Linked DNA regions of Homo sapiens: region 1 is linked to region 2. The links come from fine-mapping of genetic effects on gene expression. A gene starts in region 2. The other region holds a variant in brackets. All regions are shown on one strand. Distances are from middle to middle. Region 1 overlaps CARD8 (caspase recruitment domain family member 8). Region 2 holds the start of CARD8 (caspase recruitment domain family member 8).

What was found.
Region 1: its variant is fine-mapped to the expression of CARD8 in lung (TOPMed, PIP 0.91).

Annotation. Positions count from the first base shown.
Region 1 is chr19:48,230,637-48,235,636 of GRCh38, forward strand. CARD8 (caspase recruitment domain family member 8) reads right to left here. Exons shown (of 14, transcript NM_001184900.3): 6 at 3,767-3,907; 7 at 1,817-1,857; 8 at 1,024-1,174; 9 at 141-370; 10 at 1-64. Among named protein-coding and RNA genes, the nearest start is that of CARD8-AS1, 23 kb to the right of the region's middle. The variant G/C (reference allele first, on the strand shown) is at 2,330.
Region 2 is chr19:48,253,523-48,259,062 of GRCh38, forward strand. CARD8 (caspase recruitment domain family member 8) reads right to left here and starts at 2,390. Exons shown (of 14, transcript NM_001184900.3): 1 at 2,270-2,390. CARD8-AS1 (CARD8 antisense RNA 1) reads left to right here and starts at 2,153. Exons shown (of 2, transcript NR_040599.1): 1 at 2,153-2,272; 2 at 2,829-4,672. RefSeq lists an enhancer at 2,259-2,498.

The DNA.
Region 1 (5,000 bases), 23 kb before region 2:
TCCAGGACCATCCCTTCATTCTTAAAATGGGCAACGAGAAACCAGGAGACGTCCACCTCACCTGCTGCAGGAGAACCACAACAGCAGTGAGACGGCACGCACCCCAGCGGCCCCCACAGCCTCCGCTCACCCCACATTACCTTGGAGGGAGATGAAGTGGGGGAGGTGGATTTCGGCGACAGCCTCCTCTGGCTCTGCAGTGACATCAAACAAGGGGCCGCCCACCAGCCACTGTTCATGGTGCTGCAGGTCCAGGGCCAGGTGCTGACTCCAGGAACCAAACGCAATCGTCACTGTGACCTCATCCCTTACCAGGAAGCCGAGGCCTGTGGCTGACCACAGATACCAGCCAGCAGTGGGGAACCAAACGCTGAAAGGAGCCAGAGTGATGTCATGACGGGAGAACCCCAGGACTTGGATTTAAGCAGCGATGTGCAGAGGGAGGTGGGATTTGAAGTGAGGCAAGGTTCAGGACCCATCTGCGACTTTCACTACATTAGAAAACGCTGGGGAGTTCATTAACCTCTCTGGGCCCCAATTTCTCTGCATTCTATATATGTTGAAATTAAAATACCAACTTCACAGTGCATGAAATAAACATATTATTGATGAAATTTTAGCTATCATAAGGGATGGAACCGATACGCTTCCTTTTGTATTTATATTTTTATTTATTTATTTATTTTGAGACAAAGTCTCGCTCTGTCTCCTAGGCTGCAGTGCAGTGGCGAGATCTCATCTCACTGCAACCTCTGCCCCCTGGGTTCAAGAGATTCTCCTTTCTCAGCCTCCTGATTAGCTGGGACTACACGCGGGTGCCACCACGCCTGACTAATTTTTGTATTTTTAGTAGAGACAGGGTTTCGTCATGTTGGCCAGGCTGGTCTCGAACTCCTGACCTTGTGATCCGCCCTCCTCCACCTCCCAAAGTGCCGAGATTACAGGCCTGAGCCACCACGCCTGGCCTACACACTTCCTTTATATCAGAGTGGTTTTCAAATCATCAGCATCTTCCATTCTTACCTGTATCTGTTTGTGCTCTTATCAATCAACTCAACATCCACATTTCCTTCAGGCCCCAGAAACTGACGATTTTTATAATCTTCTTCGATCTCAAAACAGACTTTAGAAGCATAAGAGGAAACTATTTGATTCTCTTCTGAGCAAATGTCTCCTGAAAAGAAAATACTAGACATGTAAGAGGTAAAGGGTTGGAAGAGGCATGGCCTGAAGGACTCCTGGAGGCTGAATTGCACAGGTGCTGTTGGGATACAGATATCGAATGAGAGCTGAGAGTGACCAGAATATGCAGTTTCGCTTCTTTGAATCCAGACAAAGAAAGGCACAAGAATGTTCCTTGTCATGACTAAACGTATACACCAAATTCCATAAGACTTTCTGGGAAGCCAGGCTGGACAGCTTTGGTGGGAGGCACCATTTGCTGAGGACTGGAACCAATGCACCTACATTTCTACTGGTCCGAAATAGCAGAAGACACTTTCTGCTGGTGAGGAAAGTCCAGGTCAGAAAAGTATCGAACTCCAAAGATGCAGAGGCGAAAGAGCGTGCATCCTTCCTAGGCCCTGCTGCTGTCCCCAGCCACCAGGACCACCCACTGACTCCCCTGAGCATTTCCATGCCCCAGCAGTGACAGGCTTACATGTCCCCATTTAAACTGCACAGTGCACTGTGGCAAAGGTAAGGGAAAGCACTCCTGATCTGCACAAAAGACTCTAAATTGTCTTCTTCACATAAAATCACAGAACATTTCCATCAATCCACACGCCCTTCACTCCTCTCCCTATTAGCCCATTACCTGAATCTTGTCCCTCTGAAGATTCCTGCTCTTCTGATACACTGGAGGTTGGGATCCCCATGTTACAAAAAGATGAAAAACATCAAGAATCAGTTGATGAAGATGAAGACGATGTTATTGAAAACTAGAGCTGCACTGTCCCGTAGAGTAGCCGCTACCCGGATATGCTATTTAAATTTGTATGAATTAAACTTAGGTAAACTTTAGTTTCTCAGTTGCACTATCCATATTTCAAGTGCTCAACAGCTACATATCACTCACGGCTATAACACTGTGTAGCAGAGAATGGAACACTCCCGTCATCACAGAAAGTTCTCTTAGACTGGGCGGATCTAGACTATCAAGAAATAGAAGACATTTTGAATGAAGATATTTTTATCCACATTTATAAATAATAGAGATAACACACTCCCTTGAGCCAAATGTGTCTTGACATCTCTCCTTCTTCTCTTTGTATTATGCCCACGTTCAATGTGGACACAGCCAGATTCTCTGGCTTAAATTGATTGCTCC[G/C]ATTGGTATCATACGATGTCGGAATCAAAGACTGAAGCAGTAATTCACCAATGCGTAAAATGTATGCATTTATATTCCAAGGTAATTCCAAACTTGACCACACCTGGGAAGCTTTAAAAACCACCCAATACCAGGTCACAGCCCACATCAATTGAATCAGAAGTCTGGAGGTGGCACCAAAGCATCGGCGCTTTCAAAGCCTCACAGGTGATTCCAATATTAGCCAATATGGGTTCTATGACATACAGCGTGAGCCAATGGTTCGTCATGCCTCTGGAGAGAAACCTGCCCTAACACAGGTGATACCTTCTGGAGCAAGGCAACCAACTCCATCAAATTCTCTGCCTTTGATCCATTCCTTGAGATATCTGTTTATTTCGACGTGAAAGAGACCAGCAGAGAAACTGACACGTGGATTAGGTTTAAAAAGAACAGGTACCTAGAGAAGTGGGATGAAGAGAAAGGCTTTACAGCGCTTTTCTCGGAAGGATTCTGTGGGCAAGCCAAGCATGGAGAGACCCCTGGGCTGACATCCTAAGACTGGTTGCTGTCTGCGGCTACACATTTTGCTATGGATTCGGGTAGCTACAGGCAAAGCAGCAAGAGTAAACATGCCATTTTATATTCTCTTTCCTGGTGCATGTGCATGCTGGAGTCTGCCTGCTGAGGAGGGGTTTAGAAAGTGGGAGGAACCCAGCGCTGAACTGCAGACAGCGCATCCCAGATCATGAGAGCTGACGGTTCCATTTTCAGGGCTTTTGCAACCAAGTTGTTCAACACAACCATTAGTCTAAATTAAATGATACAAGCTAACATTTAAATAAATCATATTAAAAACAAAAGTAATACATATTAAAACATACCAATTTCCAGTCATTTTTCTACACTTTTCAGCAGTCTATGCCCTTGAGGTTATTTATGTCTCTTGTATCTGTGTGGTGAAAGCAGGATGACAGACTTCTGCATGTGTTCTTTCAACTCCCTCATCAGGGGCTTCACGTTGGTAGTTTGAAATCTGCCATGATGGGGATATTCAACCCTTGGAAATTGGCATACCCTACAAATAGACGCATTCTCCCCTCCCCGGTGTTAAACCTCAGGACCCCACTGTGGCCTTCAGCCTCATCATCAGCCAGTTTCCTAGAGAATTAGGTTGGTTTTATGTATTGAGTAACAGCTTAACCAATAACCCACTGGTCTTCGATTGCATTGCTCATTGCCTTTTTGTGTATAGGTTCTCTAGACACCTCCATGGAAGAAAACCTCATTGCTTAAGGTTTGTTTCAAAAATTTCTGGATTCATTGCTAGTATTGCATAAGCTCATTCATTCTCCCCTGAGTTCGATGAAAAACACCCAAATTCCTCTAATTCTCATGTTCCTCTGTGATATTGAGACACAGCGTCCAATAGTTTTCCAACGGAATAGCTTTTCTTACCTGGGAATGTCCCCCCCAGATAGTTGACACTCAGGAACAGCACGGAACAATAATGGCTCTGCCTCTGTCTCATCATCTTCTTGGAAAAAATGTGAGATGTCACAAAGGGTCTCAGAAACACAGGGTAGCTCCCTGTATACCCTGGAAAACAACAACAGAATTTTTACTATGAATATAAGGTAGGTGCCTGATGATAGCATAGGCTGTGCAGGAAGATTTTATGTTAATAGCCATAGACTCAATATTTTATCTTAGGGAAGTCATTCCTCAGGCCCCTACGACTCCATCTCACCTCTCAGACTCCCATGACTCTTTCTTACATCTCATTATGTTAAATTTAACTGGCTCTCTGTTTCCCACTATATGCTGCTCTTTCCATCCTAGGAAGCAGACGTCAGTCAGTTCTCAACATCTAGCATTTGCCACAAACATTGGTTTCATAATAGGTCAACAAGTATGTTGACCTATATAACCTTGCTAAGAATTTTAGGGAAAGGATGAGATTCCTAATTTGTAGTCTCCCTTCATCCATAATTGGTGCCCGAGAGAATAGGACCCTAAAATGATTGGGATTGCAGGGCATTAGTGAGATTGGGCATGTTTTATAAGAACCCATGGAACAGTTATCTCCTCTTCTCCCTTCTGCCTGCAAATGGTGAGAGGGGTTGCATAAAGCAACAAAAATGCTCACAGAAAAAGAAAATTATGGATATTGTACACACTTTCTTTTCCCATCAAGGATCCTTATTCAGATATGGAACATGAGAGTCCTATGCTAGATCCTTTTCTCTTCTTCATTTTTGAAGGCTTGGTGCTGTCCTCCTATGGCTGGCAGGAATCAAGATTGAGGTTAGGAGTGATGGAGTGTCCTTTATGCCAAGATATTCAATGGCCAATATGACAGCCACTAGCCACACCTGCCTATTTACATTTAGTTTTAAATTGTTAAATGTGAAAATCAGTTCCTCCTTTGAAGTAGCCATATTTCAAGTGCTCAAAAGCCACACGTGGCTCTTGCCTGCCACCATGTAAGACATGCCTTTGCTCCTCCTTTGACTTCTGCCATGATGGTGAGGCCTCCCCAGCCACGTGAAACTAAAAGAATTTTTCTGGGTAATGGACATAGGCATAGGACGTCTGGCAACAAAATCTGCTTTGAAGAGGACTCCAGGGAATAGAGATGAGGTCTCAGGCTGGTCTTGAATTCCCGGCCCCAAGAAATCCTTCCACCTTG
Region 2 (5,540 bases):
ACAAATTAGGCTTCAAGAGCATTTCCCTCCATCTTACAGGGGATAAACCCAAAGAAGTTATATTAAGATTCCAATAAAAGAATGCAAGATGACTATCTGTGTAAAAATGTAATCAATGGGGAGCAGGTGCACCTCCAATAATATTAGACAAAATATATTTTACCTAAACAGCATTACTAAGTATAAAGTAGATCACTTCAATAAGAATAACAATTTTAATTTTGTGTATACATATTCACACTTTCAATATGTATATAGTATACACGGGTAGAATGATAAACAGATATAGAATAATCCTCCACTCTTGTGGGAAATCTGTTCAATAGTCTTTCAGCAATTAACAGAATAACAGAGTATCAGTAAAGATATAAAAAATTGACCAAAGCAATTCATATTCTTGACTTAAGTGCCCTAGAATAACAACTCACACAGCCATTGAAGAATCCCCATCATCCTATCTCAAGCATAGAGGAAACACATAGCATACATATGTAGCCACATAGCAAACACAGAAATGACTATCAACAAAGTGGAAGAGTTTAATGCACAGATTAAGTTATCTGAATATATGTACAATGAGTTATAAATAATAAATAATTGAGCCAGGTGAAGTAGTACATGCCTGTAATCCCACCTACTTGGGAGGCTGAGGTAGGAGTTTGAGCCCAGGAGTTTGAGTCTGGTCTGGGCAGCATTGCAAGATCCCATCCCCCAAATAATAAATAAACTAACTAAGTAATCAATAATTGAATGAGAAAAGTTAGCTCATATTTCAATATGTTCAATCTTAGGATATATACTTCTAGGCAACCACTTAGTGACAAAAATTCTGTAGAAATCCATCATTGAAAGTTCATTATGTAAATAAATGTGAAGACTAGATAAGAACCACAGAACACAATGACATTGGAAAAAATGCCACAGTAATTCTTTGAAAAAAGAAATGCAGGCCTGGTGCGGTGGCTCATCCCTGTAATCCCAGCACTTTGGGAGGCCGAAGTGGGCAGATCACAAGTCAGGGGTTCGAGACCAGCCTGGCCAACATAGTGAAACCCCGTCTCTACTAAAAACACAAAAACAATTAGCTGGGTGTGGTGGTGGGCACCTGTAGTCGCAGCTACTCGGGAGGCTGAGGCAGGAGAGTGCTTTCAGAGAAACTTCTTGATCACAAGGGGAAATCTGAAAGTTGTCAGAACAAAATGGAGTCACTTATGTTAAGATAACCCTGACAAATAGAGCCAGGAAGGCCATGAAGAGAGGGCTCTTATCCTTGCATGCCTGAAGATGAAAAAGACTCTACAAAACCCACAACCTTACATAAAGGTCTTCACAACCTTAAAAAAATATATATTTCTGCAAGGAATGCTGCCCAGCAACTGCTGGTCCAACCTAGGACTAATGTCACCCTTGTTACTGATCTTTGTAGCCAAGGAAAATTCTGTTAAAACAATATGCAATCCTCCCCATTTCTGTCTTCCTTTATCTCCCTGAATATACACATAGTTTAATACGGCATGTCTATTCCCAATTGCAATGCTCTATTCCCAAATAAACATTGTTTCCGGCTGGGCGCAGTGGCTCACGCCTGTAATCCCAACACTTTGGGAGGCCAAGGCGGGCTGATCTCGAGGTCAAGAGACGGAGACCATCCTGGCCAACATGGTGAAACCCCGTCTCTACTAAAAAATAAAAAATTAGCTGGATGTGGTGGTGCACGCCTGTAGTCCCAGCTACTTGGGAGACTGAGGCACGAGAATCGCTTGAACCTGGGAGGCAGAGGTTGCAGTGAGCCAAGATCATGCCACTGTACTCCAGCCTAGCCACAGAGCGAGACTCCATCTCAAAAAGAAAAAAAAATTGTTTCCCTTAGGAAGCTTTCATATGTTTGTTAGTTAGGTTAACACTTCTAATAATTAAAGTTATACAGTTACAGTGTAAAATTATTAGTATTAACAACATAAACATTGGTATAAAAATTATTATTACAGAAATTAAAACAAATTGAGTGTGAGAGAGATTATTAAGACTGTCCAAGCCAAGTCACTGAAGTCATAAATTTAAGTTATGACAGGATGCCGAGCTTCCAGAGGGTTTTGTTTTTAACAAGGGAGGGGCCCTATTTCCCCTTCTGACACGCTCATATGAACTTCTCACTTTGTCGTACTCCTTCCTTGCTGACTAAGAGGAACAGAACACAGAGCAGCCTGGCGGTGTCCTACCAACAAGCCTCCGTTTCTCCTTCCTGTACACTAGGGCTCCTGAAACTCACCTGGTAAGCGCTCCAGAAAAGCAGCAGGTGGTGACTTTAGGGTAGGACGGGCCAAATGGGAGAATCCCCTTAGGTCGGTTTCTCTGGTTCTCAACTTCTTTTGAAATAACGCTCGCAGAGGAGGTGGGCTTTCTGAGAACTGAGGGAAGTAAGCTCTCAGGACTTCCGGTCGCCATGATGGCTGTGGGCAGTCAATGGGGTCAGTGCAAGCATCTGGGCCATCTTTAATGTGGGCAGGAAAAAAACACGATTACACTTACTTCTGCAGAGTTTATAATATCCTTGTTCATTATTTAAAATAAAATATCTAAGACATAGGTAATAGTATATTTTAAATAAAATTGAAGCAATATATGAAATTTCTCTGGAATTCATCCAGCCACTCTCAGCTGTTACCACTATCCAGAAACGTCTTAATCCGCCTGCATGATTTATGTATTTGGTTTGTATTTTAAATATCATTTTCTGTAATATTTAAAAGTTGTATTTGCTTGGTATCCTGCTATGCATTCTCATGCAATTTGATTTTTAATCAATATTACTTTTTTTTTTTTTTGAGATGAAGTCTCCGTCTGTCACCCAGGCTGGAGTGTAATGGAGCAATCTCGGCTCACTGCAACCTCTGCCTCCCAGGTTCAAGCGATTCTCTTGCCTCAGCCTCCCGAGTAGCTGGAATTATAGGTGCATGCCACCACGCTCGGCTAATTTTTTGTATTTTTAGTAAAGACGGAGTTTCACCATGTTGGTCAGGATGGTCTCCGTCTCTTGACCTCGAGATCAGCCCGCCTCGGCCTCCCAAAGTGCTGGGATTACAGGCGTGAGCCACTGTGCCCGGCCTTGGTTTCTAAATACTATTTTGAAGTATCTGTGGAGAAATGGTTACTTCGAGGGCTGGGGCAGGAATATATAAGATAACATTGGAACAAATTCTGACGCCAGAACATGAAGAAATATTTGAAAAAGGATGGGGCATATTGACTGAACACAGAAGACAAACATGCATGACCTCAGCCTAATCGTGAGAAAACATCAAAGAAATCCAAATTGATAAACATTCTGTAAAATAATTGGCCATGCTCAGCAAAAGTGTCACAATCACAAAAGACAAGGGAAGAATAAGAAACGGTCACAGCCTGGAGGAATCTAAGGACATAACAACTGAGTGCAATGTGAGATCCTCGATTCGATCTTGGAGAAGAAAGAGGACGTTAAGAGAAATATTGACAAAATTCAAATAAGGTCTGCACATTAGGTAATGGTAAGATACGTTGACATCAATTTCCTGGTTGGATACTTGTATTACATATACTATTATGTATATAATTATTATATTACAATTACATATACAGTTGTATATTATATATAATACAATAAATGTATATATATGATTATAATACAATAAATGTATATATACAGTTTTATATATAACAACTATTATACATATAATACAATTATATATATAGCTAACATCAGGATAGGCTGGTTGAGGATTTATATGAATCTTTGCTAATTTTGCATGTTTAAAATTATTTCAACATAAAAAAATTATATGGGTCATGTAGTTTTTTGTGCAGTTTAATTCTAGGCACCATAGTTTCTGTTTTAATGGGTGTATTTTCTTCTTTCAAGGAATTGGGATAGTCTGTTGTATTAAAAACCTATTCATTTTTGTACATTAAGATTCTTCTGGCCAGGCGCAATGGCTCAAGCCTATAATCCCAGCACTTGGGAACCTGAGGCAGGCAGATCACCTGAGGTCAGGAGTTCAAGACCAGCATGTCCAACATGGTGAAACCCCATCTCTACTAAAAATACAAAAAAAATTAGCCAGGCATGGTGGCACATGCCTGTAATCCCAGCTACTTGGGAGGCTGAGGAGGAGACTCACTAGAACTCAGGAAGCAGAGGTTGCAGTGAGCCAAGACTGCGCCACTGCACTCTGGCCTAAGCAACAGAGGGAGACTCCATCTCAAAAAAAAAAAAAGATTATTTCTCTAACTTACTGGTTTATCTTTTATAGCTTATTTCAGGTGATTTGTTGTGTTTGTCTATAGAGTAAAATAACATGTCTAATGAGTTATAATTTAATGTCCTTCCATTCAATCACTGTATTTCAAATTTATTCCAATATTTTGGAATAAGCTTCCAATATTTTAACTTAAATAGGGAAGGTCATACTTGGTATTTTCCTGACCTCAGCTGGAATGCCTTCATAGTGTTCACATGAACACATTTGGCCTGAGAGAGACTTATTATGCCGAGAATGTGTGTAACCCTTTTTACTTAGGAATTGTGGGTGGAGTTTTTCCCCCCGCCCAAGAATGATTGTTAATTTCCGTCCATCATTTTCCTTTGATTGTTCTTCATCTCGAAAACAAATAATAAAATAATAAAATAAATAAATAAAACTTACTGGTCTTCTCACCTATTTTCTTGCAGTGCCTTTAAGCAATGCTCTGCCAATATCTTTTTCTTAATTATTATGGAATGCATGGGACCGTTCCATGCCTGATTATATGCAGAATGTTCTTTCTACAAGTGAGTTTTTGTAGTATTTCTGTACTCTGCCATACTAGGGCATTTCTCTGTTTTCAAGGATCTCCCAACCACACCGCCTCTACCACATTTATCTCCTGCTCAGCCTCCACTCCAACTGCCCAGACCTCACAGCTCTTGTATTCAAACTCTATCGATAAATCACCGAGTATGAGGCTTTACTCACAGGAAATTACTCTTCTGGCACTTCCTGACTTCTTTATGTTTTCTCACTCTGCACTTCCTCCCTGTTCCTCCGCTATGCTTCACCCTGACTTAACACAGTTTTGTCAGCCAGTGAGAAACATGTGGATCTGTGAATTCTATCTGTCTCCTCGTTATTCTGAAAATGGAGTTTGCATGGACTTTTCCGTTCACCTTATTGCTTTCATTGATACTCAGTAATAGACAAGATAAACTGTTATTTCTCATTGCCTTGTTCATTTCAGAAGTACCAGGTAGAATTTTACAATTCTTGCCTTGATACATATTCCCAGTAATTGTTGAGTGATTTAATTGTATGTTGTCTTGATATTACTTTGGTCATATATTACATTATTTCTCATTTTTGAATATCTGGATTTACATAAATTCTGTGTAATTCAGGTTTGTATTTATCCAAGTTCTCAGAAACTACAACTGCTGTAATTGATCATAACTCTCCTAATACAGGTGTAACTAAAGTGAGAGATGCTTTTTGACTCATGAAAAAAAGAAGACTGTAGACCAAGTCTCA